4 separate regions of the Homo sapiens genome follow, and all the other regions are reported to be linked to region 4. The links are microRNA targets in miRTarBase. Many come from high-throughput screens and were not tested one by one. Region 4 holds a microRNA gene; each other region holds the end of a gene's coding sequence.
Evidence for each region. The annotated mature microRNA hsa-miR-3974 reads AAAGGUCAUUGUAAGGUUAAUGC and lies in region 4 at 4,372-4,394, shown strand. An mRNA with a match to its seed (bases 2 to 7 or 8) in the 3' UTR can be bound and repressed. Matches are read on the target gene's strand: a 7mer-m8 pairs with bases 2 to 8, a 7mer-A1 pairs with bases 2 to 7 and ends in A, and an 8mer does both.

Region 1: the mRNA of ZNF264 is a reported target of hsa-miR-3974. Seed matches in the 3' UTR shown: 7mer-m8 at 3,983-3,989, 7mer-m8 at 1,282-1,288, 7mer-m8 at 1,044-1,050 and 7mer-m8 at 357-363.
Region 2: miRTarBase lists HUNK as a target of hsa-miR-3974. Seed matches in the 3' UTR shown: 7mer-m8 at 5,194-5,200.
Region 3: miRTarBase lists NLRP11 as a target of hsa-miR-3974. Seed matches in the 3' UTR shown: 7mer-m8 at 1,765-1,771.

What each region holds. Positions count from the first base shown.
Region 1 is chr19:57,210,757-57,219,067 of GRCh38, reverse strand. ZNF264 (zinc finger protein 264) reads right to left here. Exons shown (of 4, transcript NM_003417.5): 4 at 1-7,714. The coding sequence ends at 6,087. Among named protein-coding and RNA genes, the nearest start is that of AURKC, 16 kb to the left of the region's middle.
Region 2 is chr21:31,997,721-32,006,031 of GRCh38, reverse strand. It overlaps HUNK (hormonally up-regulated Neu-associated kinase), which reads right to left. Exons shown (of 11, transcript NM_014586.2): 11 at 1,968-7,506. The coding sequence ends at 6,848. Among named protein-coding and RNA genes, the nearest start is that of LINC00159, 84 kb to the left of the region's middle.
Region 3 is chr19:55,778,949-55,787,259 of GRCh38, reverse strand. NLRP11 (NLR family pyrin domain containing 11) reads left to right here. Exons shown (of 10, transcript NM_001394894.2): 10 at 1,389-1,861. The coding sequence ends at 1,635. Among named protein-coding and RNA genes, the nearest start is that of RFPL4AL1, 14 kb to the right of the region's middle.
Region 4 is chr12:17,668,937-17,677,247 of GRCh38, forward strand. MIR3974 (microRNA 3974) reads left to right here and starts at 4,363; the gene lies at 4,363-4,458. The region is part of intron 1 of LOC124902889 (a long non-coding RNA gene); the gene reads left to right. RefSeq lists an enhancer at 2,985-4,465.

The DNA of each region.
Region 1 (8,311 bases), not on the chromosome of region 4:
ATGGAGAACATGACTCTGAAAAATCTGCAGATCACTCTCAGTTGTAAGATCTGTTCATAGAAATATTGGTGTAGCACAACTCAGAAGACTGTGGGCTTTCTATTCCCCCAGATAGTTTAACATTTCTATTCAAATGTCAAGACAAACCACCAGAGAACCATGACTTTGGAATATAGTTGTCTATTCTCTGAGAGTCTTTCTTTGGCGTTAAAAAATAAGCAAAGAAACAGAAGGTGTACAAAAGAACCCACCCAATGGAAATTAAACAACTGGAAAATACAAAACCAAAATGAAAACTCACTGCACAAACTCAACAGATTAGGTATGACAAAGAAAACAATCAGTGAGGACCATGGAAGGTCAATAAAAATTAATCAATATTAACAAGACAGAAAATAGACTGGAAAAAGAAAAAAGATGAGAGCCTGAAGGACCCATGGGAGTGTAAAACAAGATCTGCCACTCATGTTATTGAAGTCCCTAAAAAAGACAAGACTGGGGGGTGAAAAAATATTTGAAGAAATAATAGTTGAAAGTTCCCCAAATTTTGCAAAAGGCATAATCCTACAGATCAAAAAGCTGGGCAAGCACCAGGGAGCGCCAAATAGAATACACCCAAAAACTTCCATGCCACGCACATCACAGCCAAACTTCTGAACACTAGAGACAATGAAAAACACTTTGAATGAAGCTTGACAGAACTGATGCATTGTAAAATAGGGAATGATTATTTGAATGCTAGTAGGTTTCTTATATTAAACAATAATGTACAGAACAGAGAGATACATCTCTGAAGTCTAAAAGAAAACAACTGCCAACTCTGAATCTTATATTCCACAAAAATATTCTTTGGGAATGAAGGAAACATAAAGACATCTTTAGAGGAAGGAAAACAAAGAACATTTGTTACTCTAGAAGAAAGGCTACAGTAAAGTTCAGTGTATAACTGAAAAGAAATGTTAATAGAAGGTTTGGGATTTCAAGAAAGAAGAATGAACAATGGAATGGGTAAAGAGGTCGACAGGCCAAGGTTGGCGGATCACAAGGTCAGGAGTTTGAGACCAGCCTGAGCAACATGGTGAAACCCCGTCTCTACTAAAAATACAAAATTAGCTGGGTGTGGCGGCGCACACCTGTAATCCCAGCTACTCAGGAGGCTGAGGCAGGAGAATCGCTTGAACCCAGGAGGCGGAGGTTGCAGTGAGCCAAGATCGTGCCACTGCACTCCAGCCTGGGTGACAGAGTGAGACTCTGTCTCTTTAAAAAAAAAAAAAAAAAAAAAAGGTCAAGAGACAATGTTTCTCATGACGTTTTGTAAAATACGTGTGAGAGATAAAGTAAAAATTACATCTTGTGGCCGGGTGCAGTGGCTCACACCTGTAACCCCAGCACTTTGGGGGGCCGAGGCGGGTGGATCATGAGGTCAAGAGTTCAAGACCAACCTGGCCAAGATGGTGAAACCCCGTCTCTACTAAAAATACAAAAATTAGCCAGGCGTGGTGGCGGGCGCCTGTAATCCATTACTAGGGAAGCTGAGGCAGTTAATTGCTTGAACCCGGGAGGCAGAGGTTGCAGAGAGCCGAGATCGCATCACAGCACTCCAGCGTGGGTGACAGAGTGAGACTTGGTCTCAAAAAAAAGGAAAAGAAAAATTACATCTTGCAACATAGCGCTCAATTTTTGAAGAGGAATTACTATTACTTAAGATAGTTACATTAGTAGGTAAGCTAAAGGAACCTAATGGAAGTAAAGTGCTAAATTGCTGATAACTTATTAAACTGTCATAAGTTATATATTTACACTGTAATAGTAGAACAATCACTAAAAAATGCAGATATATACAGACAGTCCCTGACTTAGGATGGTTCGACTTACTACTTGACTTTACAATGGTGCGAATGCGACATGCATTCAGTAGAAACCACACTTGAATTTTTATTTAAAATTCTTTGCAGTAACTTTATTATAAAGTAGGCCTTGTGTTAGATGATTTTGCCCAACTGCAGGCTAATGTAAATTTTCTGAGCATTCTGAAGGCAAGATCGGCTATGATGTTCAGCAGGGTAGGTGTATTAAATGCATATTTGACATAGTATTTTCAACTTGCAATGGGTTTATTGTGACATAACCCCATCATAAGTCAAGGAGGATCTATACTAAAAAACACTACATATGTATCAAATCAAATTATTAAAAAAAAAAAAGGTGAAGTAACCTATAGGAAGACTAGTAAACAACCCCAAATAACAGAGGAACAATAAAAAAGAACACAAAAATCATTTAAGGGCACACTTAAGCCCTAAAATATCAATAATTATTTTAATGTAAATCATTTCAACATACCAATTAAGAGAGACATATGCAGAATGAATAAAAAAAGCATGGCCTGAGTATATGCTGTTCAAAGAAACTGACTTCATAAGTAATGATACAGGTAAGCTTTAAAATAAAATGAAGAAATATTAACCATGCAAACATTAATCAAAATATGCAGGAGTCACTATGAGAACATCAGGTAAAGTATTGACAAGACTATTAAAAGGCAAAAAAATGACATCACATAATGACAGAAGAGTCAATTCACCACAAAGACTTGGCAAACCTACATGTATATGTACCAAACAATACAGCTTTGAACTTTGCAAACAAAAAGTGATAGAACTTGAAAGAGCAACACACTTCCACAATCATGTTCAGGACTTTTTGTTGTTGTTGTTGAGACAGAGTCTCGCTCTGTTGCCCAGGCTGGAGTGCAGTGGTGAGATCTCAGCTCACTGCAACCTCTGCCTCCCACGTTCAACTGATCCTCCTGCCTCAGCCCCCCAGCAGCTGGGATTACAGGCACACGCCACCATGCCTGGCTAATTTTTGTATTTTTAGTAGACAGGGTTTTGCCATGTTGGCCAGGCTGGTCTCGAACTCCTGGCCTCAGGTGATCCACCTGCCTTAGTGGTCTCAAAGTGCTAGGATTACAGGCGTGAGCCACTGCACCCGGCCTATGTTCAGGACTTCAACACCCCTCTCAGCAACTGACAGAAATGCTGGACAGAAAATCAGCAAGGACATAGCTGACTTGAATAACAATGAGCAGGATCATAGAGACATTTATAGAAACTCCACCCAGTAACAGCAGAACACCCATTCTTTTCAAGCAGCTATACGAAACAAGATAGACCCTATCCTGGGTCATAAAAAAATGTTAACACATTTAAACAGTCAGATCAAACATGGAACAAATTAGAAATCAGTAACAAATATGCCAAACACCAGAAAATTAAGCATACTATTAAATAATTCATGGCTAAGAGAGAATGTCTCAAAAAATAAAAACTATTAGAATTAAAATGTAATGAAAACATTAAAACTTGTGGGATCAAACCAATAGTGATATGAGGTAAATTTATACAATGTAATGCTTACATTAAAAAAGCAAAAAAATCTCAAATCAATAATCTAAAACCCCACCTTGAAAAGTTAGAAAGAGCCAAATACAACCAAAGCAAGTGGAATATAATACCGATCAGAGCAGAAATCAAAGAAATCAAGAATAGAGACAAATCATTAATATAAAGTGCTAGTTCTCTGAAGTGAGAGATGAAGCAAAAATTACATCTTTCAGCATGATGCGCAATAAAACTGATAAATGTCTAAGAAGACTCAATCATAAAATGAGTATGCACATTTTAAATATTAAAAATAAAAAGAAGTGCAGATCCTGCTATCAAAAGAATAAGGGAGTGCTACAAATACAGATGAAATATTCCTTCAACAGGACAGACTATCAAAATTTATTACACAAGAAATAGATACTTCGAATAGTTCTACCTATCCAATAAAATAAATATGTAATTTAAAAGCCTCCAGAAGAAAAATCTCTGGCCCAATGGTTGACTAGAGGTCATCAAACATGACAAGAACAAATAACACCAATTCTACACAGTCTTCCAAAAATTAGAAGAGAACTCCTTCCAATTCATGTTGAAAGGTCAAGATCACCTAGACATCAAAACCACACATAAGACATTTAGAACATAAGAAACAAAAGAAAAAAGAACTACACATTATTAGCCAATAAATTAGAGGAATATTTCCTCAACAAAATACAAACAAAGGGAATGATGTCAAATGATATATAAAAACAATTATACTCTACAAACAAGTATGGTTTATTCTAAGGATGCAAGGCTGGCTCAATATTCAAAACTTGATCAAAGCAATACATTCCATCAATAGGATGTAGAAGGAAAATAGCATAATGACATCAACTGGTGGAGAAAAAGTACTGAACAAAATTCCACACTTATTCATAGCAACACAGAGTCTCAGAAAACTGGGAACAGAGGAAATTTTTTACCCTTATAGAGGACATATGTTTTATAAAACTTACATTATACTTCATGATGAAAAACTGAACATGCTGTGCACTGTGGCTCACGCCTGTAATCCCAGCACTTTGGGAGACCCAGGCAAGCAGGTTGCTTGAGCCCAGGAGTTCAAGACCAGCCTGGGCACCATGGTGAAACCCTGTCTCTACCAAAAAATACAAAAATTAGCTGGGACTGGTGGTGCATGCTTGTAGTACCAGCTACTGGGGGGTGGTGAGGGCTGAGGTGGGGGGATCACTTGAGCCCAGGAACTTAAGGCTATGGTGAGACAAGATCGTGCCACTGCACTCCAGCCTGGGTGACAGAGCGAGACCCTGTCTCAAACAAAAAACAAAAAAACAAAAAACTGAACATTGTCCCCCCTACTATCAGGAACCAGGTAAGGATGGCCTTTCTCACTATTCCTATTCAACGCTATAATGGAAGTCCCAGCTTGTGCAATGCAATAAGACAAACAAAAAGGAAATAAAAGGTATATTACAGGTAAGATGAAAGATAAAAAATGGTCTGTATTTGCAGATGACATTTCTATATAGAAAATTCCAAGGATTCTGTCGAAAGAAATAGCTAAAAATAATAAGTGAACTCAATAAGGTTGCAGGGTAGCAAAACAATGTCCAAAAATATTATATTTCTGTATACTACCAAAAATTGTGTGCAATTCAAAGTTCAAACATCAATGCCATTTACAATCACTCAAATTACACACACACACAAACAAAAAAGCACCCTAGGATGCAAATTCTAACAAAAATGCATAGGGATCTATACGCTGAAAATTTTTAACATTAATGAAATACTTTAAGGAATGCTTAACTATTATAAATTAAGAGGCCTACTCCTGCACTCATGAACTACAAGACCCAACATAGTAAAGATACCAATTCTTAACAGATTAATCCACAGACTTAACTCAATTTCTGTAAAAATCTGAACAAGACTGTTTTGTAAATAAGTACAAACTAATCCTAAAAATTATATGGAATGTCAAAGGAACTAGAAATGCTGTCGATTTTAAATAAGAGCAAAGAAGAATCACTTTACTCAATTTAAAAATTTACCACTGACATTTTGAGCTAAGTAATTTTTAAAAATTTAACAAATAAAAATTTACCATATGGCTACAATGATGACGTAAACCAAAAGACGGGCATCAAGACAAAAGCCTGAATGTTAACATGTGTATCCTTACTGACTTAAACGTGAGTATTTCATGGCTCAAGCCCCCTAAGTTGTCATAAAGTTATGCTTCTCAAGAGTAAGTACTATTGTGGAATACAGAAGATGTGCGATTAAAGTTTGCATACTTTTCCTAAACTAACTGTTCTGACACTGGATAGCAATAAATGTACATACAAGCACATAAAGGGTCAAGGTTCTTTACCTTGAAACATTTCCCTTCCCCCAAATACACTAAGAAATCCATGACAAAGCGCCATAGGCTTGGCAGAGAAGCCTGAAAAGATGTGTGCTTGCATTTCATTTTTTCTATGTCCCCTCCTCCTTTTAAAAATAATTCCTGAGATAAAATTGCACTGTAAACTAAGGAGAAAGATGCAGCTGAAGGTTCTCCTATGTGCACAATAACCACTGGGTCTCTCTCCAGGATAAATTATCAGATGGAGAATAAGGCTCTAGACTGAACGAATTTCTAATATGACTCTTCAGATGACAAGTAATATTCAGCAACAGAAGGTTTTCTCACAGTGAAGACACTTGTGGGGTTTCTCTTTGGTATGGTTGATCAGATGCAGAGGAAGATGTTTCCTCTGGCAAAATATTTGCCTCAGTGGTTACATTCAAAAAGTCCTTCCCTAAAAGAAGTTCTCGAAGGGTAACTGAGGTTTGTCCACTTGTAAAAGGTCTTCCCACATCTGTTACACTGATGGGATTTTTCCCAGTATGCATCCTTTGATGCTGAGTGAGGGACGAGCTGCGACTGAAGGCCTTTCCACATTCACTACATTTATAGGGCTTCTCTCCAGTGTGGATAATGGCATGTCGAATGAGGTTTGTGCTCCAGCAAAACGATTTCCCACACTCAACACATTCATAGGGCTTCTCTCCACTATGAATCCGCTTGTGCCTCGTGAGGCCCGACATGCGGGTGAAGGCCTTTCCACACTCCACGCACTCATAGGGCTTCTCTCCAGTGTGGATGCTGAAGTGGCGAATGAGGTCCTTCCGATTGCTAAAGGCTTTCCCACACTCTTTGCACTCGAAAGGCTTTTCTCCAGTGTGGGCCCTTTTATGCAAGATAAAAGTAGAGCAGTGGGTGAAGGCCTTTCCACATTCACTGCACACGAAGGGCTTCTCCCCAGTGTGAATCCGCTGGTGCCTCTTGAGGTAGGATCGGTGGTTGAAAGCCTTCCCACACTCGAGGCACTCAAAGGGCTTCTCTCCAGTGTGGATGACATAGTGGTGAATCAGGGCTGCACTCTCCAAGAAGACCTTCCCACATTCACTGCACTCATAGGGCTTCTCCCCGGTATGAGTCTGCTGGTGCCACATGAGATATGACCTGTGTTTGAAGACCTTGCCACACTCCAAGCACTCATAGGGATTCTCACCACTGTGGACAACATAGTGCCGGAGAAAGCCTGGCCTATGTCGAAAGACTTGGCCACATTCTGTGCACACAAAGGATTTTTCTCCAGTGTGTCTCCTGTTATGCAAGACAAAATTGGAGCGGTGGGTGAAGGCCTTTCCGCATTCATTGCACTTGTAAGGCTTCTCTCCACTGTGAATCCGCTGGTGCTGGGTAAGGTATGACTTGCGGTTGAAGGCCTTTCCACACTCCATGCACTCATAGGGCCTCTCCCCAGTGTGGATCATGTGATGTTGCAGGAGATGTGTGCTCTTAATAAAGGTTTTCCCACATTCTGTGCATTCATAGGGCTTAACTCCAGAGTGAATTTTCTCATGTCCAGCAAGGAGGTGTTTCTTGTTAAATACTTTTCCACATTCACTGCATTTAAAGTTATTTTCCTCTTCCTGAATCATGGGATCTTTACCTGACTCACATGAGTTATGGCTACGGACTCTATCTCCTGGAGAGACTTGCTCCTGTCCAATCCTTGAACACACACCATCAGCTGTCCCTAAACCATCACATTCAGGGCTCATCTTCCCAGGAGACTTCTCCTGGGGATCTATTCCTGGTCTGAAGTGTCCTTCCTGCATTTCTGATAGCCCATCCTGATCCTCGGCTTGCCCCAACTGTGAGTCCACTGAGTTTCCTTGTGTCACTTGTCCCTGAAGTGAGATTCCCTCTGACAAGGCTGGCTCACAAGTGGTAGGTTCTGTGGTCTTAGGTTTTCCTTTGTCGCCTGAAAGAAATCCAGCACACAAAAGGGCCTGTTAGTAAAGGACAACATGGAAAAAAGAATATTACCATTTCTGTGAAAAACCATAGATAAAAATATTGCCTCTGTGTTGCTATTTTCTGTATCTCAAATTCTTGGGTTTGCAATTTCTTTCTATCCTGGTCCTTGGACTCGGGATATTCTGCATGGGAGACCTAGGGGCAGAGGCTGGGTCAGGAGACAATGCGTCTGTTCGTGGAGCCACCTTCACAATTACAGATTGGACCTGGGTAGACAGAGTAACGACGACACCGTGCATGGTAAGCTTCCTGTAAGCAACTAAGCAAGGACATGCTGTGTTGCTACAAGAACACGAGGAAGGAGCACCTAATGAGCCCACATGGAAGACAGGAAGTGAGTAACAAAAATTAATCCCCAAAGAGAAGTACGCTTTTCCTGTGAAGTCATGGAAAGTAACCTGTAAACACTGAGTAGTTCCAAAATGTTTTTACTTATGGTGGGACCCAATGGCCCTATCTGACAGTTTATGCAAACGGGGAACTCACTATGGAGTCCTCCACAGTTTATCCTGAAGAGATGACTCAGGTTAAGGTCTGGCCA
Region 2 (8,311 bases), not on the chromosome of region 4:
AAAAAGAGAAATTTTCTGGGAGTGATTTAGTCAGAAAAGGATAAATGGAAATTTGGCATATGGGGCAAAACATATGAGATTCCTAGAAGATGTAAATTTTACTATCTGACCTTTTCCCCGTGTTAGTCGGCCTGGGCTACTGTAATGAAATACCTCACCGGGATCTAAGCAACAGACATTTATATCCTCCCAGTTCTGGAGGATGGAAGTCTGAGATCAAGGTTTTAGCAGAGCTGGTTCGTCTTGAAGCTTCACTCCTGAGGCTGCCTTCTCTGTGTCCTCACCTGGTCTTTCCTCCGTCTGGTGTCCCATTGTGTATCCATATCTCACATTTTTTTTTGTTTTTGTTTTTTTGTTTTTTTTGAGATGGAGTCTCGCACTGTCGCCCAGGCTGGAGTGCCAGTGGCGCGATCTTGGCTCACTGCAACCTCTGCCTCCCAGCTTCAAGCGATTCTCCTGCCTCAGCCTCCCAAGTAGCTGGGATTACAGGCACCTGCCACCACGCCCAGCTAATTTTTTGTATTTTTAGTAGAGACGGGGTTCCACTATGTTGGCCAGGCTGGTCTCAAACACCTGACCTCATGATCCGCCCACCTCAGCCTCTCAAAGTGCTGGGATTACAGGCATGAGCCACCACGCCCAGCCCAGACCTCACATTTTTATAAGGGCACTTGTCAGATTTGATTAGGTTCCTCCCTAAAGGCTTCATTTTAACTTACTCACCTCTTTAAATGCCCTATCTCTAAGTAGTCACATTCTGAGGTACTGGGGCTGAGGGTTTCAACATATGAATTTGTGGAGGAAAGAATTCAGCCCAAAACACTCTCCTTAAATATTAACATTTACCAATGCTAATTCTTTTATTTTAAAAAAGTAACTCTTTACTAAGAGGTGCTATAATTGTGTGACAATGGGAAAAGGCTAGTCCAGTTTTGGGGTACCTTTAAATGGTAGGCATCTCGGCCAGGCACGGTGGCTCATGCCTGTAATCCTGGAACTTTGGGAGTCCAAGGCGGGCATATCACTTGAGGTCAGGAGTCCAAGACCGGCCTGGCCAACACGGTGAAACCCTCGTCTCTACTAAAAATACAAACATTAGCTGGGCATGGTGGCATGTGCCTATAGTCTCAGCTACTCAGGAGGCTGAGGCACAAGAATCGCTTGAACCCAGGAGGTGGAGGTTGCAGTGAACCGAGATTGCGCCACTGCATTCCAGCCTGGGTGACAGAGGGAGACTCCATCTCAAAACAAAAGCAAAAACAAAAACAAAGAACAAATAAATGGCAGGCAGCTGTACCTTCCCTAAGATGGGAGAAACATTAGCTGCATCCCAAGTAGCCCTATGCTCCTGTATTTCCCAGCCTCTTGCTCACAGACAAGGCAGTGTGACCAGTTCCAGTCAATGGGCTGTGGGAGAAGTGATGAGTCCCCTCATAGAATGTTTAAGGGCTGGTGGAAAACTCTCCAGCCGTGCCTTCCTGTGCTGGAGCAGCCAAAGACGTTTCATTTTGAGGGGACACAGCCACAAGTTGGATGTAGCCTGGATCCCTGAGTCACCATATGGAAGACAGCCGTTTTGTGGTCAGCCCAGCCTCATAAAAATATTTTAAGAAATAAACCTTTATTGGGCAAGTCACAGAGATTTGGAATTAATTTGTGATCATAGCAAAGCCTAATCTTCTAGCATACTGGTTGCCAGAGGAGGTGAGCACTGAACACTGATGAAGGAGTCAGGGGAAGGCATTCTCATCTCAGATCTGCCAAGAACTTCACTGCCCTACTTTCGGCAAGAAGACTTGTTCCCAATATAGGCTTGCAATTTGCCCTTTCCAGCTGGCTATGGTAACAAGACTAGAAAGAACACATTTTTAAAAAAAATTATAGAGTTTAAATGTAAACCAAAGCCTTTGCTTTCAAAATTGCTAATAGCCCATCTTCCAAGTAGGAAATACAAAGAGCTGAGGCCCTGAAGTCAGACCCATTTATTTTTTTCACCTGTAAATGATACAGCTTCCTGTGCCATCTTTAAGTTTTAAACCACTCAACTCCAATTGATCCTCAAGTTTGCTCCACATAAAGCTATTCTATCCTTCCAAAATTGGTTGCCCCAAATGCCTCATTATTGGAACACCACCAGCTCAGATGTGGATACATGTGGAGGGGGACTGCAAATCCTGAAATGCTCCTCACCTTCTCTTCCAAAGCCTCCTCAGCTTTCTCCCCCAACCTCAGTCCCTTAGTGCCCACAGACGTCAACTCCTAGAGATAACTGTGTGTCACAAAAACATGTCCACAGAGAAGAAGTACAAATATATATCCTATTTGTCTTTGCAACCAGATGTCTGGAAAGCTCCCTTAACAGAAAAGCTGCCACAAATAATATACTCATTTACTACTCAGGAAATGCACTCCCTTCATTGAAAAGTGATGACATGAAATTGAACCAACTCCCAGTACCGCTCTGAATTATTCTTACTGTGCCTGTAGCTCACAGAAGACCCCACAAAGAAAATAAATACACTAACCAACAGGCTTCCAGACTCCCCCAAAAGATAGCAGTTTTGCATTCTTTCTGAATTTGCTTCAGTGTATGATATGGCTCTATAGGAAATGTTTTATTGATTTAATCTAGTAAAACCCAATAGCCTCTTAATACCTAAAGTAGATAACAAGGCTATCCAGGGGTTTGCTGCTTACTTGGGAAGTCAACTGAGAAAGACAGAGTTCCCAAAGAAAGCTGTCTTTCCCCAGCTTCAAGAGTGGATGGGACAAACAGCATAAGGTTCAGGAAGCTGCACAGTTTTGAAAAGGACTTAAAAATGCAAGACCTAGTCCCTGCAGGAACTTCAGAAATACCTGTTGTGATGACGGCTTGATCTGTTGTTGACATCCCCCTCTGACCATGGCAGCCACTCTCTGATTTCTCTGTGTTCTTTGAGGGAGAAACTCTGCTCCAGACCAGCTCAAATGCCAGCTCATCTGGGGACTCTGGGGTGTCCTTAAACCATCTGGGTCCCTAGTTTTCCCTTCTTCAGAAAGGCTGGGGCTGAGCCAGAGAATCTTAGGTCCTTTTCTATTCTAAAGTGTTGGGATTCTTACAAGAAAACATTGTCATCAAAACTAGATACTTGTTCTTTTCCCCGGAATCCGACTACTGGGGCTTTGCACAGTGAACAGTGAGCTTCTCCACTTTCTAGCTATGTCACCCTCTAAGGCTTCGTCCCCTCACTTCCCAGGGGAAACAAGGTGGTATATATGAAAAACGTTTTGTGAACAGTTATGAAGGAAGCAGTAACTGGGACAATTTCAAGAGGTCATCTAGATCCCACCCTCCCATTCCATCCCATCATCCCTCTTCCCCTATCCATGACCAAGGCCTCCTACAAGGACAAAATCTAGAAGTCACGTTCATAACTGCCATTCTTTGTGTGCCATTTTCAGAGTCTCCAAGGAAGATCCTAATATCCCCAAATGAAAAAGGTTGATTCTTCTTGAACTGCCACCTGCAGTGTGTATGTCAGAAAGACTTTTGTAGGCACACCTATTGCAGGTAAAATAAGGCAGGGAAACTGGCCCAGAAAATGCCCCCCAATGCAATTCCCGCTTGTTTCCAGTCAGATGCTAGGTCAAGAGCTTTACATAAGGCCAGGCACAGTGGCTCACGCCTGTAATCTCAGCACTTTGGGAGGCCAAGGTGGGCAGATCGTTGGAGCCCAGGAGTTTGAGATCAGCCTGAGCAACATGGCGAAACCCCATTTCTACAAAATACAAAAAAAATTAGCTAGGCATTGTGGTGCACAACTGTAGTCCCAGCTACTTGGGAGGCTGAGATGGGAGGATCACTTGAATCTGGAGAGGTTGAGGCTGCAGTGAACTGTGATTGTGCCACTGCACTCCAGCCTGGGTGACAGAGCAAGACCCTGTCTCAAAAAAAGAAAAAGAACTTCACATAAAAGATGGTACCTGTACTATTATTTGCAACGTACTTAGTTGTTTTAAGATTTATCAGCAAATAAAGAAGCAGTCGTAGTGAGGGAAAAGTGTATTTCACAGTCATTACAAAAGTACATATATCTAATAATGGTGACATAAATATAGTCCTTACTTATGACCAAATCATACAATTAAAATGGACATTTCCTCCTAGACTTCACACAATGACAGTCCAGTCAATTTCTGTCAGTAACTACAGGGTGACTGGAATCACAGGCACAGACTGAGGAAGACAGTCACGGTCGAACAGACAACATGCTTCGGACTTACCAAAGGGAGAGTCGAGCTTTCCATATAAATATAATAAAATAATAAAGAATCTAACATTTCTCCTTTCACTCGGTTTCATAGATTTGTCAGGTGCTCACACACACACACACACACAAATACAGCTGATCCCCTTTCATCACTCCCCCTCACCTCTCACTGGGTTTAGAATAAACCTGAGTTCAGAGTCCAGGTCGCCAATGGCAACGCGGTCAGTTAGCGGCACATGTGCAGCTGTTCTTGAAGCCTGCCAGGAATAAGAAGCACGTTCTCCACAAGCTAACGGCAAGGCGGAAGTACCCCTGCTCTCAAGGAAAATGCATCAGGGGTTCCAGCAAGTTCCCAATGCGCAGGTATACACCCTGCAAGCCTGCAAAGTGGAGCCGTTGCAGCTGGAAACCGTCTTTAGAAAAGGTACACTTCATGTCGAATGGAGAGATGGTCTTAGATGATTATTTTCTTCTCTCTGCTTATAAAGCTCTATTTTCTTTTTTTGGAGACAGGGTCTCACTTTGCCACCTAAGCTGGAGTGCAGTAGCATGATCTTGGCTCACTGCAGCCTCGACCTCCTAGGTTCAAGTGATCCTCCCACCTCAGTCCCCGAAGTAGCTGGGACTACAGGCACGTACCACCACACCCAGCTATTTTTTTTTGTATTTTTCGGTAGAGACGGGCTTTCACCATGTTGCCCAGGCTGCTCTCGAACTCCTGAGCTCAAGCGATCCACCTGCCTCGGCCTCCCAAAGTGCTGGGATTACAGGTGTGAGCCACCACACCTGGCCTAAAAGCTCTGTTTTCAATGGTAAGTTCTGGAACCCAGTCTGAAGCTATACAAAAAATAACACCAATGGCCAAGGGGTCTGACCTCATCCTAGAATGCCCTAGAGCCGTGGTGATCCCCTAGGGAAGAAACAGGCAGCTCCAGGTCTCACCAAGGTCAGCCAAATATCCATTCTGTCCCGCTCTGTCAGAGATGTGAGGGACTGAAGGATGTCACCACTGGTGAATGAGAGAATGATTCAGAACTGCCTCTCTGCCTTCTGGCAAGGCTGCCTGCCAGGGAAATAAAGGCTGGCTTTGCAATTCTAGATTTGTGTTTTGGGATCCTTGGACTGAGATGACTATCTGAGGTGGCCACAGAGGTGGTCTCTGGTCACACCTGCACCGGTCAAAAGTTGAAGACTCCAGGCCATTCTGTAACTGGTCTCCTACACTAACCCCTATCCAACCTGTGCTGATGGGTCTTCTTTTTCTGATTCTTCTCACCAATGACTGCACCCTGTCAAGTGCCAGCTGGATACAGTCAGACAACACGGCTGTCCACAAAACACACACAGGGGCACAGACACAATACTGGAGACACATCTTTGGTTCGATCCTTGGAGAAAGGTGTGAAAACACAACGTGGACTGAACCCTGTTTGAGGAGCTTGGCTTTCCTCGAAGAAGAAACTGGCCTGTATCTGAACAGGTTCTCTGCCAGGCAAGCCTGCTCCCAGCTCCCAGCAAACTCGCCGAGCTCTGAGCCGCACCAGTTCTGTGGGCAGCTTGAAATCAGCATCGCACAGAGATAATGCTGCCTTCTCGCCATCTGAGTTATGCTCTGAATTGTCACAATCATCTTTTCCCTCTTTCTACAGAACCAGCTGTAACCGTGTTCTATGCCTTCCAGAAGGATCAGGGCTATGCCTTAAACAACAGGATGAACACAGGGCCACCGAGACTTGCCCTGCCTGTGGGCCACAGCACTCAGCAAATCACCACAGTCAGCTTTTTTGCTCTCCACACTGAACCCTCCTGTGAAAACATGAGTTTGGTGGAATTGCTTCTCATCTCTCCATCCAAGTTTTAAAAAATTATGTTATTTCAATTTACCGACATCACATTTAAAAAAAATCTTTGGAAAAGATAATTCAATCATTAGCATGTTTCAACAACAACAACAACAAAAATCTATCAAAATCTTGCTTGGGAAATGAGTGTCTCCTTCAGTCTTTCTCTTCTGTTGGGGTCCCCACTGTTTGGTTTGATCTTGGTCCGAAGCTCCTCTCCATCTTCCTCTGAGGATCCTGGGCCTGCCCCCGGCTCCTGCTGGCCTTCAGGTAATCCCTGCTATGAAAGGCAGGGCTGCTACACTCCGCAGAGGAAACGTGGCCTGGATGAATGACTGTGATATTGTTCTCTCCCTGTAACTGTGGCCAACTGCTGTGAGAGGCACACATGTAGCACAGCGTGAAGAAAGATCTGGTAACAGTCCATAATCTGAGTGCCCCAGAAGGCTCATGCCCTGTTTTCCCCCCAAGCCTGGGGGAAGTGGGAAGTGGAAGGGGTTGGTGAGTACTTGGGAGGAAGGAAGATCTGAATGATAGGAATTGGCTGCCCCTGGAGCCAACCCTCCTAGCGATTCCAGCATCTCTGGGGGTCCCTAAGCGAGGTTGGGTTGTGCAGGCTTTGGGTCTGTGGATTCAGCTACAGGTGGGACTAAGGATGCTCCACGCGAGGCCTTGGAGTGCTCACACCCTGACAGATGTGTGGAGCTCTGTTCAGTTGCTGTTTTCTAGAGATACCCCAAACCCCGCTGGCCCAAGTTAGCACTGGGTCTTGACCCCATCGGCCATGTCAAAGGCAAGGTTCACAGGGGCTAGGGGCTGCAGTGGGGGCAGGCTGGCCTCCAGGGGCCTATCTGCAGATGGCTGCAGACTCTGATGGCGCTTCCTTAACATCTGTCCGATGCCCATCATAGGGAACCGGCCTCGGCTTTTCACACAATTGGGGCTCCCCAGAGGCTGCATGGGGCCATTGCTGGGAACCGGAGGTGGGCAACACAGGCCCTCCTCTTTTGGGGGGCTGTTCTTATCTTCGTGAGCAAAAGAGACCAGAGTTGGATGCAAAGGAGTATGGAGAGGCGACATGCTTCCGGATGGCAGACCCGGGGACAGCGTCCTCTCGCTGGAATTTCTGCGAGCCAAGCTGACCGGGGAGTTCAGAATCCTGTAGTGATGAGAGGGAGACAGCACTTCTACGTGGTCGTCGCGATCCACAGACTCGAAGGAGCGCACCATGTCCAGCATCAGGGGGTCTTCCTTGTGGGGGATGCCAGTGCTTCCGGGCCCTGGCTGATGGGGCTCCGGTTTCTTCACAATCCTCGGGGTCCTGGGCGGTGGCACGGGGATGAACTCCATGGAAGAAGAAGCCACACAATTGGAATCTGAGGTTTTGCGGAAAATATTGCGGCAGCCAAAGGAATCTGCACACCAAGAAAGCATAAACAATCATGAGGACGTCCGGACAGTGCTCACGGCCCTTCTCCTGCCTGCTGTGACCTCCAGCTTAACTGAGACAGTTCCCGCCAAGGTCAGAAGAAACCAACCGGCAAACAGCCTTGGCTACTTTGCAAAAGTCACCAGCAGCATGTCACTCTCCCCACAGAGGTCGGGCAGTCTTCCTAGGATGGAGGGACAGAGGGCTGGCGACAGGACGTCTCCTGGATTCCAATTTGCCTCATGGCCCCAGCCTAACATCGTCCCTGCTTTTGGTTGCTTAAAATTCTGGACCCTAGGCAGCGGTGGCTCACGCCTGTGATCCCAGCACTTTGGGAGGCCAAGGTGGGAGGACTGCTTGAGCCCAGGAATTCAAGACCAGCGTGAGCAATATGGCAAGACCCCGTCTCTAAAAAAATTTTAAAAAATTAGCAGGGTGTGGTGGCATGCACCTGTGGTCCTAACTACTTGGGAGGCTGAGGTGGGAGGATCACCTGAGCCTGGGAAGTGGAGGCTGCAGTGAGCCGTGATGGCACTACTGCACTGCAGCCTGGGTGACAGAGTGAGACTCTGTCTCAAAAAAAGAAAAAAAAGAAAAAAAAATTCTGGACCTTGCCAAAGGATCTTGGAATAAAAAAGGTACATGCACTCAACAGCACATCCATAAAACTCCCAGAAGCACACCAAGGTCCCTTGACTGAATTCCTGCCAATCTGGTCCTTGGACAGCCCACAGTGGAAGACATGTTTCCCTTGTGACATTTAAAAAATTTATTTATTGTGGTAAAAAACA
Region 3 (8,311 bases), not on the chromosome of region 4:
AGCTGCCTATCAGCTTCCATTCACACTGTCACGTGTGTAGAAAGCTCTGGCAATATCTAGCATTCTGTTTCTACCTGCCTTATTTAAAGGAAAATCATATTCAGGTTACTGAGCATTCAATTAGAGACTAAGTATAAGCATCCGGATGACCCATTAATAAAATACAGGAGGGGCAACTCATTTCCCACTCATGTCCAATTTTTCTCAAATGGAAAATGGTGATAATTATCTCAGAACTCTTAAAGATTAAATGAGATCACAGACTCTATGCTGGAGACCCTACTATGAGTTGTTTTCCCTTGTCATCTCTAAGTGATAATTTTTTCATAAATATGGATATTGAGTCAAACTTTCAGATGCATAGAAAAACCCATAAACATTACAAATTTTCCAAATTGCTTATTCTCTTTATTTTTCCTCCCCAGGGCTCTTCTCACCTTCAAATGTATAATGTATTTATTCTATTATCTAATTCCTTCCACTAGAACATGAGCTCCATGATGCCAGGGATATTTTTCCTTCAGTATTATAGGTGCTCAAAAAAAACTAAACTGCAGAAATGACCATATTTCAGGTTATAAAGGTATTTGTGCCTACATGCTAATTGGGACACTCACATGCAGAGAGGGCACAAAATAAGTGGCTGAATCCTCCTCTTTGATTTGGAGAAAGAAACATGAGCATGGGCTGCGGTGTAAGTGTGCCTCTGTTCTCTAGCTATGTAAATTTTTTTTTTTTCTAGTTAGGGTCTTGCTCTGTCACTCAGGCTGGAGAGCAGTGGTGTGATCATGGCTCACTGCAGCCTTGACCTCCCAGGTGCAAGTAATCCACCTCAGCCTCCCAAATAGCTGGGACCACAGGCACGCACCACCACACCCGGCTAAGTTTTTGTATCTTTGGTAGAGATGGGGTTTTGGCATGTTGTCCAGGCTGGTCTCAAACTCCTGAGCTCAAGTGATCTGCCTGCCTCAGCCTCCCAAAGTGCTGGGATTAGACGTGGGACTGGACTGCGTCCAGCCTGTAAACATATTTTAGTTGGAAACTTTGACCCTCAGTATTGGAACCTATAAAGTCTTGAATGCCATTACCCATTGTGAGGATGTAATGTGAGATGCATGTAAAGCATTGAGCACGTAGTGGCGTTGGTTACTACTAATATTACTTCAAACAGTTCTCCCAGTGGAAATCTTGTCTTACATTCTAATATTTAATGGAGAAATCGCTATCTCACGGTTTTCAGTCTGGAACAGATTTTTGTTTCCTCAGAGATGGCTTGAGATACTCCCAAGAATACCCAAAGGATGCCATATGGGGAATTAGTCATTGATGCAACAAAGCTGAGACCTCACATGTAGCATTAACGGCGTTCTCTCTCTGTTTTCCTTCAGGCTTCCATTAACTGGCCTGAACACACAAACCCAGCAGTTGCTGATGACTGTAAAGGAAAGAAAACCCAGTTTGATCTTTCTGTCTGAAACTTGGTCTTTAAAGGAAGGCAGAGAAATTGGTGTGACACCTGCTTCTCAGCCAGGTTCAATAATACCTAATTCTAATTTGGATTACATGTTTTTCAAATTTCCCAGAATGTCTGCAGCCATGAGAACGTCAAATACAGCATCTAGGCAACCCCTTTGATCATGTTGTACGTAAACAGTATTTATTATAAATTACTACCGTGACTGGGATGCAAGAGAATTAGGACTATAATTTTCCTATTTGATGTGTGTGTGTGTGTGTGTGTGTGTGTGTGTGTGTGTGTGTGTGTGACCTTGATCCAGTCAACCACTTCAAATTCCTACACTGTCTCAAGAGTATTAAAAGGATTATATGAAGTAATAAAGGATAAAATGCATTGGAAAAAGCTGTGAAGCATGATTGTTTCATCAGTGGGCACGGTGGAGTAACACTAAAGAAACTATGATCCTTTCATGGTTTGTTTCTTGTTTTTGTTTTTCTGGGTTTTGTTTTTGTTTTTGTTTTTGTTTTTGTTTTGGTCTAGGGAGAGTTGTTAGAAGGTGTCCCTAGGAATCCTTCGAAATGAAATCCTCATCTCACCTTCCCTCCTGACTTCGTATTCCTGCTGCACCATGTTCTTCCCGGATCTACCTAACACCGTAACTGGCATTCATTTCCGTATCTCCCCTGCTCTTAGCCAGCTCCGCTCACAAACTTGTGTGTGTTCCATGGGATGAAGGGTGACTTCTCTAAGCTGTGGAGAAATGTCAGATATGTGTGGCCTCAGAAAAAGCGTCTCCTTTTCACCTTCTTTCAGAAGAGGGAGTTGAACTGGGCATCCTCTGATAATGTTTCCAACCCTGACACTGTATTTACAATGCCCCATTGCTAAGCATCTGGTTGCTGTACCTAATAGGCCTCCATAGGTGAGAGGATACCTACTCAAGGTGGGTAGGTTTTAGGGTCTTTACGTGCTGAAAAAAAAATTTTTTTTTTTTTGTTTGAGATGGAGTCTCGCTCTGCTGCCCAGGCTGGAGTGCAGTGGTGTGATCTCAGCTCACTGCAGCCTTCTGCCTCCCGGGTTCAAGTGATTCTCCTGCCTCAGCCTCCTGAGTAGCTGGGACTACAGGCGCCCACCACCATGCCCAGCTAATTTTTGTATTTTTAGTGGAAATGGGGTTTCACCATGTTGGCCAGGGTGGTCTGGATCGCCTGACCTCAAGTGATCCTTGGCTCAGTTTCTAAGGAGAACTGTCCTAATTTCTCCCTTTGACAGTGTTTCTAGGACACAGGGGTATACAGTAAACCTGAGCTTTCTGGTCCCACATTGAGCCAGGAGCTCAAGCCAAGCACCTGGCTTAATGTGCCACTGTCTTGGTCCAGCCGGGGCATGGATGGTGTGGCTCAGAGCCAGGCAGGGGTAAACCTATTTTGCCCAATGCTATTGCTCACCCTCAGCTCTGAGCTCTTCTCCTGTTTGAGATCTTTATGTTCTGCCTTTTGCTCTAAATGTACAGAAGCACTCACTGGGGTGGTCTTGGCAACAAGCTCTGTACAGGGATGTGTCAGTCACCATAAGCTGGGGCACCTGAGTCCTTAGTTAGAGACAGGCTCCTGGACCTGATCTCCCCACAGAGATGTCACGATCATGTCATCTGTAGTATCTCTCAGTGACATTGCCTCAGTGAGTCTGGGGCTTCTCTGATGAGAATATTTGATTCCCAATGCAAAACCTCCTCAGCCACTTCTGATAAATGCAACTTCTGGACATGATGTGAAGATTCTGATGATTAGCAGAATAACTGGCTAAAAGTGTTTTCTATGTTCCTTTTCAAAACTCTGATTTCAGAATCAAGTCATAATCAGCTGTGGAAAGAAACCTTGAAGGTGAATCAAAGGATCTTACTGTAGTTTCAACTGGGCTTGTTCTTTGATTTTTCTGACATGTTTCTAAAATAAGATAATTTTTTTTTGAGACAGGATCTCACTCTGTCGCCCAGGCTGGCATGCAGTGGCACGATCACAACTCACTGCAGCCTCGACTTCCTGAGCTCAAGTGATTCTCCCACCTCAACCTCCCCAGTAGCTGAGACCACAGATGCATGCAACCATACCCCCCTAATTTTTTGTACTTTTAGTAGAGAAGGGGTCTCACCATATTGCCTAGGCTGGTCTTGAGTGATCCGTCCAACTCAGCCTCTGAAAGTGCTGGGATTACAGGTGTGAGCCACTGCACCCGGCCAGGCTATCACAATTTAAGGAAACCTCTTGTTTTCCCATGACTGAAAATTCTGAAGTCATTGAAGCCATCTTCCCACCTCAATATTGCATATCTTCAATGTCCACATACTCCATGGCATATTGTAATTTGTCATCCAGGTTACCTATATAGCCCTGCCTCCTGTGCCTCTCCTTGGAGAAACAGACTTCCCTTCTTTATTCTAGATAATTTGCACTGAGAGGAAGCATTCCTACAAATAGACAAAAGCCCTATTTAGAGCATATAGAGCAATAATATCAGAATTTTAAAATTCTGTTTAAAATTAATGGAGTGATCTCACTGCAAGTTTCAAGGTAGGGAATTTTAAAAGTAGTCTTTGGTAAAACAAAAATTAAACTGGGAAATAACTGTCAAAATCAGCCTTTGTGGAAAATTTGAATCTAATAATTTACAACCTCCAGGGGAACCGTGAGTGAAGGAAGAAGCTGCTTAATTTCAGGAAGAGAGTTGTGGCTTTTTTTTTTTTTTTTTTTTTGTGGAATCTTGTTCTATCACCAGGCCAGAGTGCAGTGGCATGATCTCGACTCACTGCAAGCCCCTTCTTCCGGGTTCAAGCGATTCTCCTGCCTCAGCCTCCCGAGTAGCTGGGATTACAGGCACCCACCACCACGCCCAGCTAATTTTTGTATCTTTAGTGGAGATGGGGTTTCACCATGTTGGCCAGGGTGGTCTGGATCTCCTGACCTGGTGATCCGCCCGTTTCGGCCTCCTAAAGCGCGGGGATTACAGGCGTGAGCCACTGCACCCAGCTGAGTTGTGGTAATTTGACTCACCCACCTACTCTTCCCCACTCTGCAGCTTGATGGCTGCTGAGAACATGGAGTCCCTCATTCCCAGGCCAGCACGCTGATGCCACAGGATGAAGAATCTTTGTTCTCAAAGAATTGTGGTTGTGTGCCTCCATCTATCTTAGTGGTTCCTTGAAGGGTTGGCTCAAGGGCTTGCCTTTATTTCACCCTTTTTAGATCTACACAGACTGAAGCTGATTTATTGGGGGGTGCCAGTGTCATTAAAAGCACTTAAAGACAAATACACTTGCTGAAGTTGCCTGGGTGAGGGATAACAGGGAAAACAGATGACAGAATGAAAAGCCTATTAAGGAAGAGTCTGGGGGGAGAATTACATGAGATAGTAAGGGCTTTGAATAGCACTGAGGTATACCAAGGATTGAGTTCAATCATACATGTCCATGCAAGATTATAAAAATCTGAGAAACCCTATGTTTTACCTCTGATGATCCCGAGGCTCCATGCAAGCAGGAAATGAAGGCTGAAATGAGAGTTGTAAAAATCCTGGCTAGTGAACCTGGGAGGTGGAGGTTGCAGTGAGCCGAGATCGCGCCACTGCCCTCCAGCCTGGGCGACAGAGCTAGACTCCGTCTAAAAAAAAAAAAAAAAATCAAAATCCTGGCTAAGCTCCCTAGAGGGATCCCATGGCAAAGAGCTTGAGAGAATTTTGGGTTTGCGTTCAGGCATGTTTTAAAAATCTCCATCAAATTGTTAGTAGACCAGAAGGCAGAGACTTCAGTGGCCACACAGGAGAAAGTGAAACCTTTACACAGTAGTTTACAAAGGTTCAAACAAAACAAAAAATGAAAACAAAAACAGAAGACTCCAACTCACAACCAGCAGCAACAAGAAAGCCTGCTCAGGGGTGAGAATTTGATGTCCAGGGTTTGCCACACACAGTGTCCACTTTTTCTTACCAAAACAATGAGGCACACACACAAGACAGTATAATAGTCGTAAGAAAAAATAGCATATGAGCAAGCCAAGACATTGGGCTTCCTCTCCAAATACTAAATTAATTATCTTAAATATGTGCAAAGAACTCAAGAAAATCAAGGGCAGAAGAACAAAAATAAACCAGAGGAATAACTCCTCATCAAATAGAGAACATGAATAAAGAGAAAGTTTAAGAAGGAACCAGTGAGCAATTTAGGGGCAATAAAGTACAACAACTGAAAGGAAAATTCACAAGAGAGTTTCAACAGAACTATTTTTTATTAAAAAATTTTTTTGAGATCTCACTGAGGTAAAACGGAACATCTTGAGCATGTAAAGTTTGATTCTTGTTTTGTTTAAATTATCAGAATAATTGTATGTAATGATTGTGTATGTCATGGTGTTTTGCAATGTAGATGCGTTACCAAACGGGTAAATCTAGTTAGGTAATATATGCATTTCCTCGAAAAGTTGTCATGTTTTTTATGAAAACACTGAAAATTGCCTCCCTTAGCATTTTTCAAGAATATTATTATTAACTATTGTTGCCATGTTGTATTTATTTCTCCTGTCTAGCTGAAATTGTGTGTATCTTGGCCAACCATTCCCTAACCCTCCCACCTCACTGCCCCAGCCCCAGCCCCAGCCCCAGCCCCGGCCCCTGGTAACCCCATTTTGCTCTCTAGTTCTTTTTTTTCCTTCTTTTTTTGAGACGGAATTTCACTCTGTACCCCAGGCTGGAGTGCAATGGTGCAATCTCAGCTCACTGTAACCTCCACCTCCCGGGTTCAAGCGATTCTCTTGCCTCAGCCTCCCGAGTAGCTGGGATTACAGGCGTGCACCACCATGCCTGGCTAGTTCTTGTATTTTTAGTAGAGACGGGGTTTCACCATGTTGGCCGGGCTGGTCTTGAACTGACCTCAGGTGACCCGCCCGCCTCGGCCTCCCAAAGTGCTGGGATTACAGGTGTCAGCCACTGCATCCGGTCTTGCTCTCTAGTTCTGTGAGATCACTTTTTAAAATTCTCCAAGTGAATGAGATCACGTGATATCTCTCTTTCTGTGGCTGTATGTTTCACTAAGCATAGTGTATTCCAGGTTCATTTCTGTAGATGCAAATGACAGAACTTTCTTCTTTTCTATGGATAATACTATTCCATTGTGTATATATGTTACATTTTCTTTTCTGTTTTTGAAGATAGGGTCTCACTCTGTAGCCCAGGCTGGAGTGCAGTGGCATGATCATGGCTCATGGCTCCCTGCAGCCTCAACTTCCTGGGGCTCAAGCAATCCTCCCACCTCAGCCTCCTAAGTGGCTGAAACCACAGGTGCAAACCAACACACCCAGCTAATTTTTTTATTATTATTTTTGTAGAGATGGGGTTTTGCTTTGTTGCCTAGGCTGGTCTCAAACTCCTGAGTCCAAGCAATCCTCCCTTCTCGGCCTCCCGAAGTGCTGGGATTACAGGCTTGAGCCATCACGATGGGCTCTGTCTCTTCTTTCTCTGCCTCTCTTGATTTTGCCCTGTCTTCCTTTTCTCTTGCTTACTCATTGTTTTAATTCACCCCTTCCTCACTCCTTCACTGTAGCTGAAGATTTACTACTTTGATCCTGAAAAAACGTGTCTTGAATTTTTAAAATTTTATTTAACATTTATCCATTTTCTATTTCATTGACTACTACTGTAGTCTTTGTTTTGTTTTGTTTTTTACCTAATTTGCCACTGCATTTGCTCACTTAAAAATGGAAGCTAGACCGGCCGGGCACGGTGGCTTGCTCCTGTAATCCCAGCACTTTGGGAGGCTGAGGCGGGCGGATCACGAGGTCAGGAGATCGAGACCATCCTGGCTAACATGCTGAAACCCTGTCTCTACTAAAAAAAAACAAAAATACACAAAATTAACCAGACGTAGTGGCGGGCGCCTGTGGTCCCAGCTACTTGGGAGGCTGAGGCAGGAGAATGGCGTGAACCCGGGAGGCGGAGCTTGCAGTGAGCCGAGATCGCGCCACTGCACTCCAGCCTGGGCGACAGAGCAAGACTCTGTCTCAAAAAAAAAAAAAAAAAAAAAAAAAGGAAGCTAGATCATGGATGAGGGTATTTTCCTTGATTTTATAAGTGTCTATTTCTATAAATTTCCCTCTAAACCTCAACTACATCTGCACATTTTGTGATATTGTGCATTTACTTTCACTCAGTGTAAGGTATTTTATAATTTCCTTTATAAGTTCACCTTTGATTTGTGTTTTATTTTAAAGTGGTTGTTTAATTTTCATGTATGTGGAGATTTTACAGATTTCTTCTTGTTACTGATTTATAATTTAATTCTGTTGGCATTTGAGAACAGCGTGTATATTATTTCAATTTTCATGTCAATGTGATTTGTCTTATGGCCACATCTGTCTATGCTAGCGAATGTTCAATGTATACTGGAGATGAATGTGTGTTTTCCAGTTGTTGGGTAAAACTGAACAAATACAGGCAGATACTTTTATCAGTTTAACAGGCAGTGTTTCCTTGTCATTTAGTAAGTGAATTAATTTTGGGGGTCAATTTATATTATTATAGTTTATAACCTCCATAACACATTTACTTGATCTTACAGCAAAGCAAAAGAAAAACATTTGCAAATTCATCTGAAAATGTTAAACGTTTATTGTGAAAGAAACATAAGCATGAGTTACCAAAAAATGACACTGCTTTATATTTCATATGCAATTTTTCATCAGCAATACAAGTAGAGCTCAGAATTCCTTGAAAGACCCACATTCTTCTTCCATAACTTTGAACCATAAGTGGACCAAGCGGAGAAGTTCTCGCCTTTGGTCACGAGCACACAGCCACTTACTGTGG
Region 4 (8,311 bases):
TGGTCAGGCTGGTCTCCAACTCCCGACCTCAGGTGATCTGCCTGCCTCGGCATCCCAAAGTGCTGAGATTACAGGTGTGAGCCACCATGCTTGGACCAATTTTTGTATTTTTTGAGATGGGGTTTCACCATGTTGCTCAGGCTGGTCTCAAACTCCTGGACTCAAGCAATCCTCCAGCCTCGGCCTTCCAAAATGCTGTGATTACAGGTACGAGCCACCACACCCGTCCAGATCTTATTTTATATGGGATATTAATGGTAACTTTGTAAAATTGGAGGAAGAAATACCACAGGCAAAGACTACAACTAGCACCCATTAGTTAAATTGGGAATGAGGAGGATCTAAACTAGGAGAATGACAGTGTGGTTTGAGGAAAGGTTATATATGTATAAACAACTTAGTGATAAATTTAGTAGGCGATTACCTGGAAGTTGGAGTAAGGAAAAGAAAATGATATTTACAGCCCATATTTATATTTGGACAATGGTTTTATGAGAGGCAAGTATTACACAGGCAGGAACAATTAATGGGGAAAAGCAAACTTATGACAATTTTGAGACAGTTTTGAAAATATTTAGCAGGCAGTTGGATATAGATATCTGAACTTCATTGCAGATATTGGTACTAGAAATACACAAAGGGGAGTCATAAACATTAGTTTGCAGCTGAAACTAGAAAATTGGAAAAGGGATCTCCATGGAGTGTGTGTGGAGTGAGAATAACCAGAGATCAATCTTGAGGAACATTTAAGGAGTGGGCAGAAGGGCAGAACTCATTGGAGATTGAGGGAAAAAAAAAGTCAAAAAATTTTGTTTCTTGATTACAAAAACAAACAAAAACCAAAAACAGACTGATATTGTCACTTTTCTAGTAGGTTAAGGTTTTTTCTTTTAAATTCCAGTGGGTAATTAGGAAATCACTGGCTACTCTGATAAAATAGTTTCAGGGAAATGATAGAGACAGTGAAAAAAGTTACAGGCTATTAAAAAATGAATGGGAAGTAAGGAAAAAGTATCTTATTTCAAGAAAAGTGCAGGTAAAGGGAAGAGAGGAATCAACACAAATAAAACAGTTTAACTTTCAAGTAAATGTATTTCTAATTCTATTCTTTCCTGGGATAAGGGATTGCTTAGAAAGATTATATGTGTTTGAAAGCAAGGGTAAAGCCAAGATAAAGGAAAAACCATGGTAAGGGAAGAAACAATTGCAACGGATGAAACAAAGCTCTGAAGGACATTTAGAAAATAAAGAACAGATGTCTGCTTGATGGTTGGTCATAAAGAAGAGAAGTATATAATCCTCTCAGAAGGTAAGGGTGGGTATAGAAAATCAGAAGGTGAGGGGGACAGAAGAGCCAGTAATTCATGTTTTATGAAATCAGATTCCCTAATAATATAGAAGTTTGTTTATTAAGAGTAAGGTTGAGAGAGTGGAGAAGCCTTGAGAATAAAGGTAGAACAATTGCTGAAAGAAGTGGAAGGAACAACTGATTGAGAAGGCCAAAGACCTGAGAAATTGACTAGGATCGAATGTACAAATTTGTGGACATATGAATGTTTAAATGATGGCATTTCTCTAGCAGCGTCAAGCCTCTGCATTAGAGTAGAGAAAGTGGATAATGGAATTAACTCAAGATTGACATTTTATCTGTCAGATGTCTGTAAAGGTAAGGATGTAAGGCATTGAGGTTATTGACAAAATAGTTCAGATAATCAGCAACAACAGGACCCAGGCTGAGGAGCGAAGACATCAAGCCTGGAAATGTCTAGCTCAGCTGAAAGAGGGAGGTGGGGTGGAATCCAGAACTGGTTGTTTCTGTAAAGCTGTTTATGGCCAGATAAGTGAGAGTGATCAAGACAAGAGGTTGTGCTTAAAACCTGAGACATCAGTGCTTAAAGCGTGCGACATCAGCACTTAAGGTTCAGATATAGACAGATTTCAGTTCAACTTCAACGTATGGCTGTCGGCTGTGATGAGTTAGGTATTTTTGTGTCCATTTTATGACAAAGCAAGTGATTTGGAGAGGTTACATAATTTATGTTTAAACCACTAGTGGGTATGAGAGCTGGGATTTGACCACAGGTTTTCTGACTTCAGAGCTTCTGTACTTTTATTAGTCCATATCATCCTGCACAATTTGACTTCTCAAGTAATGAAATAGGGATGCATTTTTGCTTTATTCAAGTTTATACTGTTTTAATTTATAAGAGAATCAACATAATTTTGATAATCATTTGTTCTATTTACTTTGTTTTGTTTATAACTGAATATTCCTGATTGGTTGTTTTGGACCTAAGTGTTTGATTTGGGAACATCTTCAAAGATGTTAGTGTCCTTTTCATTTTGAAGATATTTGGCCTAATAACATTTTGTTCATAAAACTGTGTTCAGCCCACCAATGAGTTTAAATTGGTTTCAGAATTACATATAGTTAAATAAGATGTCAGAAGCAAGTAATTTGAGTTCAAATTATGTAATAGCATAGATATGTTTGTTTGTATTTTTTCCAAAAGCCTTGTTGAACTGAGTTACTCAAAGCTTTTCTTGTAGAGTGCCTACTGGTGCTTTATAAAATCACAGGCATCAAATTAACGAGTCCATCCAACTTTCTAGATAATTAGAATGCCCCTCAGCTTAACAGCACAGGGCTGAATCAGAACTATTTTACTGAAGAAGGTGTGAAACTTGTTTTCCTAAGTGGCAAAATAAAAAGTTATTAATAGCGATGCTAACATTCACATTCAGTTTAACTGATTTTTTAAAGTCATTTTTTAGTCTAATCTCCAATGACTTTGAACATAGTTTCCCAAATGTTCTGTTCTTGCATTGTGCCCTTGCATTAAGTTCAGGATTAGTTTTTCTTATCACCATACTTCAAAAACAGAGATCTTAAATATATATCAAATTTGGTCTTGTTTGTGACATTCTAATATTAACTGATGATTTTTATAGCATTGATTTCATATGGCAATGTTTGTTTTTAATTGATTTAGGTGCTGTGTTCTCAGTAAAACTAACTCATTAGAAAAATGTTCTGAAACCTAGTTGATATCTATTTATTCACTTTTGCAGAGGGTTTTTAGCCAAGACACATTCTCCAATTTAAATAAACTTCTTTATATTATAGATTACATCATGTATAAAGAGAAAATGCAAAAACATGGTTAACTTTTACATATTAGGTCATTAAAAATCCATTCTTGCCTTCCTGCCCATTACTACATCTCTTTTTCAGACCTGTCACCCATTTCATTTAAGCACTTAGCTCTCTTCTAATGAATGAATTGGCATTTCATATTACCTTATTATCCTACAAAACAAAATGCATACTCAATAACATTAATGGTAATTTCTCATAAAGACACATTATCGATCCGGGAGCTACCTGTAAGCATTGAAAATTGCAGCCTGCACACAGAGCCTTTCACATCTGGGTCTGAAGAATTAAAGAAAAATTAAATTTGACAGCAGTAAATTCACAGGCACAATCTAGGCTCCAATTTATATGCAAAATGAAATGCTTTATGAAAATTTCTTCTATTTTCTCACGGAGATTTGGAAAAAAGATTTCACTAGGTGCTTCTTTCTTTAATATCCCTCTACTTAAATATTATACTGCAGTCACTGCAGACTCTCTTTGATGTATAAATAATCAAGTTAAATTATGTGCAGCAAGGAGACTAGTGCTCTGCCATTCTTATTTTACAAAGTAATTTCTACCCTAGAGGGTCAAATTTCCCTGACAAATTCTTAATTACTGTGTTGCAACAGAAGCAGAATCTATTTGTGCATAAATCCTGGGCATTCCCATGTGGCAAGTAACTAATATTACCAACCATTTCACTTGGCCTGTTCACTGAACTCCATAATTAGATAATACTTTTGATGATGGTACATTTGAAGTCTTAATCCATTTAATTTTTTATGAGTTTTTTTTTATTTTAATAGGGATATGTTAGTGACCACTGCCTATTTAAAAATCATTAAAATTCTGTCCACAGCAGTAATAAAGATTAAAGATCACTAATATGGCATTCATAACCTTGCTGGTTTTCCAGAAATCCAGGGCTTAAGGTAAATGTTAAAGGTCATTTAATATGTTAGTCACTAATTATAATCCTGGGTAATAGGTTCCTTTTCTAATTATCATGGTATAAAAGTTCTATTGTTTGGGTCTGTGCTTCTGATTTTTGTATTTAGCTTTTTTTTGGAATAAGTAATCCTGGAATTAAGCTCCTGAACATTGATGAAAGTAGGTAATGCTTGATGATTAACTGGATAAAAGCTTATATTTGAATGCTGTATGATATCTTGCCTTGAAGTTACTTACAAAAGATGCAGCATCTTTTTTTCTAGGAATAAGTTCAGGGAAAAGGTCATTGTAAGGTTAATGCACCCATATTTTAATATCAAACTATGACAAATTTGACTACAGCCTTTCCGTACCCCTGCCAAAACATTAAGAAGAAAGCTTAAACAACATGAAACGAGAGGAGGTATTTCTAAAAAGTGGACTAGATTTGGCCTCTTAACCTAATAACAAAAGTGCAAAATTATCCATTTCACTTTGCAATAAATTGCCCACTCCTTGTTTAAACACACATACATACACAGGCATACACATACATCTCGTAAGTTAGAGTAGCTTCCTGAAGAAATCACAAGCTGCCTTCTCAGCTAATATCCTAGGATCATGACAAGCCAAAGCCATGATGGACCAATTGTAACCCATCAGTATTTTGGCCCGTATTTTTCACCAAATTCAGACTATGTTGTTGTTTTCCACTTAGCTTTATATTGGTCTTGAAAGTATTACATATCATCTGCTTATAAAATGTCTGCACTTTGAATTATTTTATTAACATGTATTTTTTCATATTTCAAACATTATTTGCATTTTCTACCTCTTCAGTCATTCATATATACTTCAATCTTTGCATTTGTCCTTGCAAGGAATCTTTAACAAGTCACTAATATAATGTCAATTGTGTCTTAGATTGTTAGAACTTGTAAAAAGCTTTAAGAATATTTTATAAGAGCCCTATCAGTAGTTATACCTTGATTAATTAATTCATAATTATTTATTGAGTATTTGCTGTGCTCCGGACATGTAAAGATTCTTGCTATCATGAAACTTTTATTCCACTGACAGGAGAGACATACAATAGACAGAATAAATAAGTTTACCTCTATTCCAATGTCTCTCTCTATAGTATATATAGATACTATATATAAGTAACTATAGATACTAATGATAGAAACTTTAAAATACTACAAGCAAGAGGAAAACTCAGGAGTAATATGGGAATTGATGATTAGGAATCAGAAAAAGGGTTACTATCTTAATTTGAGTGATCTTAGAAGGACTCTTTGAGAAAGTGACATTTGACCAAAGATTGGCAAGCATTACTCAAGGGTATCAGGTACCCCAGGAAGAGCAGGCAAGTACAAAGACTCTGAGGCAAGAGCATGCTTGGCTTGTTTGAGGAGCAATGTGAAAGTGAGTGGTTGGAAAGAAGGAAAGAAAGTTAGAGTATTTGCATATTTGTTCAAAAAAGTATTGGGCTCCAGGTTACATGTTACCTTTAGGCTCTTGCAGAAACTTTCACCTTTTTTAATTTGTGAGATGAAGGCCATATGAATATTTCAAAAAAGAAGGGACATAAGTCTACTTAGGCTTAAAAATTATAACTGACGTCTGGACTTAAAATCTGCTAATGGGGTTAAAGAGATGAAGCAGAGAGACTAGTTAAGGAGCTTTAAAGATCATCCCATCAAAAGATGAGAGTGGATTGAATCAGGGGATCATTTTGGATATTGAAAGCCAAATTTGATATGTTTTGAAATTAAAGTAAAATAATTTGATAGCTGATCAGATATATGTTATGAGAGAAAGAAAAGTGTCAATAATGAAACTAGAATTTGGTTTTTAGCAACGTCGGTCTCGAAACTAATGTTTATGACTTTAAACTGAGACAGTGAGCCATGTCCAGGTTCAGAGTACCAGCGAATACAACTAAACTTGATGAGAGTTTTGCAAGGAGAGGATAATAAAGTGAAAGAAGGGCACAATTATTGGCAATGTTTGCACAAAATGGTATGTAAGAATGTAGAATTTAGACGGTGTAAGGAGGGTGGTGAGGGTAGGACAATGCACACACATAAGTGCCATAAATAACTATGATAGATATCCCTTTATACTTGGGGGAATGGAATACATGAATGATAAGTCAATCATCTCTTCCACTTGGAGGGCTTTCTTAGACAGGGGCTAGTAATAAGACTGGGGAAATTACAAGAACTCATAAAATCGAGTGTGGAAGCACAGCGTTAAACACCAAGAAAAGAGAAAAGTGGAAAAGCAACTGTACGTATAAGAGTGCTACAACAGACTCCCCAAAAATGAATACTATGAATTATGCTTCCCCAACTGAGATCACAAAATTAACGAAAAGACAAGGGATAGCTGATGCTGGAGGTTGGGTTTACCTAGGGCTGGCTCCATGTTTGTGACCTGTATAGGTACACAGGATCCCACGCTAAGAATGGCCTTGCATTTGGTTCAATCCTCTGCTGCTGCAGTCTTGGGACTTTTAATATTTTGGAACAAGGGTGTTTTGGTAGCGTCCTGCAAAAGGCAGGATAGGTTTAGATGTTGACACACGCGCAGACAGAGTATGAGAAGGTATTACTCTCATTATGAGGGTTTCTGGGGACAGCAGGGTAGACTCCCAAGCAGGTTCAAAATGGCTTGAGTGAATGAGGGGAATATGGCTTTGGTTTCTGTTGTGATTCAGACATGCTGGGAGGAGAGCCTCTGCATAGGAGCTGGATTAGCCTGGTTTGATCATTCTCATCTGGTGACAAAGAAGGGAGTGACAGCTTTCTTATGGGCTTGTCCCACTATGGGGCTTGAAAGCTGTGAGTAATTAAACATAAAAACATGCAGTCAGATGCTTTATTAAAAGGGGTCCCTGGGATTCCTCCTTGCACTGGCCCCACAGATGATGTAGTTGGTCCTGATGTTATGGAAGCAGATTCTGAGACACAGTTTGGGATGCTAGATGTATATTAGGGAGTAACTACTGTGAAGGGAAGAGAGGAATTCAAAATGGAAGGAGGAAAACGTCCAACTGCTATACATTCATTCACCCATTATCAACATTCCCTACATGGGGACATATGGCCACACATGTATATGGCCATGTGCTTGTCAGATACAGAACTGTGCAGATTTTCAAGATGGGGAGCAAATTATTTTCTGAAGAAGGACCTTAGCAGACTCATCTCTACATCTCCCAGAGTTGGGTATATTCAGTGTCTTGAAATTTGTCATAGGTTTTAGATGCAAATTAAAATAGTTTGAGTTTTTAGGGGGTAAATTAATAATAAATAGGTCTGAAATAAAGGCTTCAGAGGCATCCAAATTAATTGGGCACCAGACAGGTCACAGGATTTATTGTCAAAGAAGTGGCATTCAGATTTCTCTCCATCAACTATCAGATATGTGACTTACTAGATATAAAAAGTTTAGTCTCTTTGAATGTGAGTTTTTTAAATAAAGATAATGCTGTTACAAATTGATATTTTTTGAGGAATAACATTTGAAATAACTGTTGAAAAGTTTCATACAAATATTAGTCATTTTTCATATTAAAAGCACTAAACTATAAACGTTGTAACATATAGTTAGGGTGACCAAAAGTCTATGTTTTTTTTTTTTTCCAGTGGAAGAGAGTTTTCTAATTTGAGTTGATTATGTCTTAGTGTGTTTTGCCCTTCCTGTTAGGAACCTTCTCTTTAATAGCAAACTTTTAGTCATGCCAAAAGTAGCATACCCATCAATAATTACTAACTAGTGTATCTGTTTTATTTAACAAATTTAACCAAGTTATCTGATGATCATCAATAGAAAAAAAATAAAGTTTTAAATTGGTCAGTGCATATTTCTTACTCATTTTAGTGTTTTAACAAGGAGTTATGGGTATCTTATATAAGATATGAACATTTTATTTTTCTCAAATTATGTTAAGGAGGATGCTTTAGGTTTAACTGCTTCTTGTTTTTATAATGTCATCTAAGAATTTTACGGAGCTTCTTGAGGTTAAATCCATGTGTATTCAATATTTTCTACAGCTCAGCATTTTTATATTTATGTTAAAAATAAAAACATGAAGAAAGTTTGAATCCTCACTCGGGTCACCAGTGGTAAAATAGGGTCACAATTTAGTTAGTACATATAGCACTCCAGTACCTCAAGTACATAAAGCACAGGCCTTTAGTTCAGGCTAGAAACTCTTCTTTCAGTAAG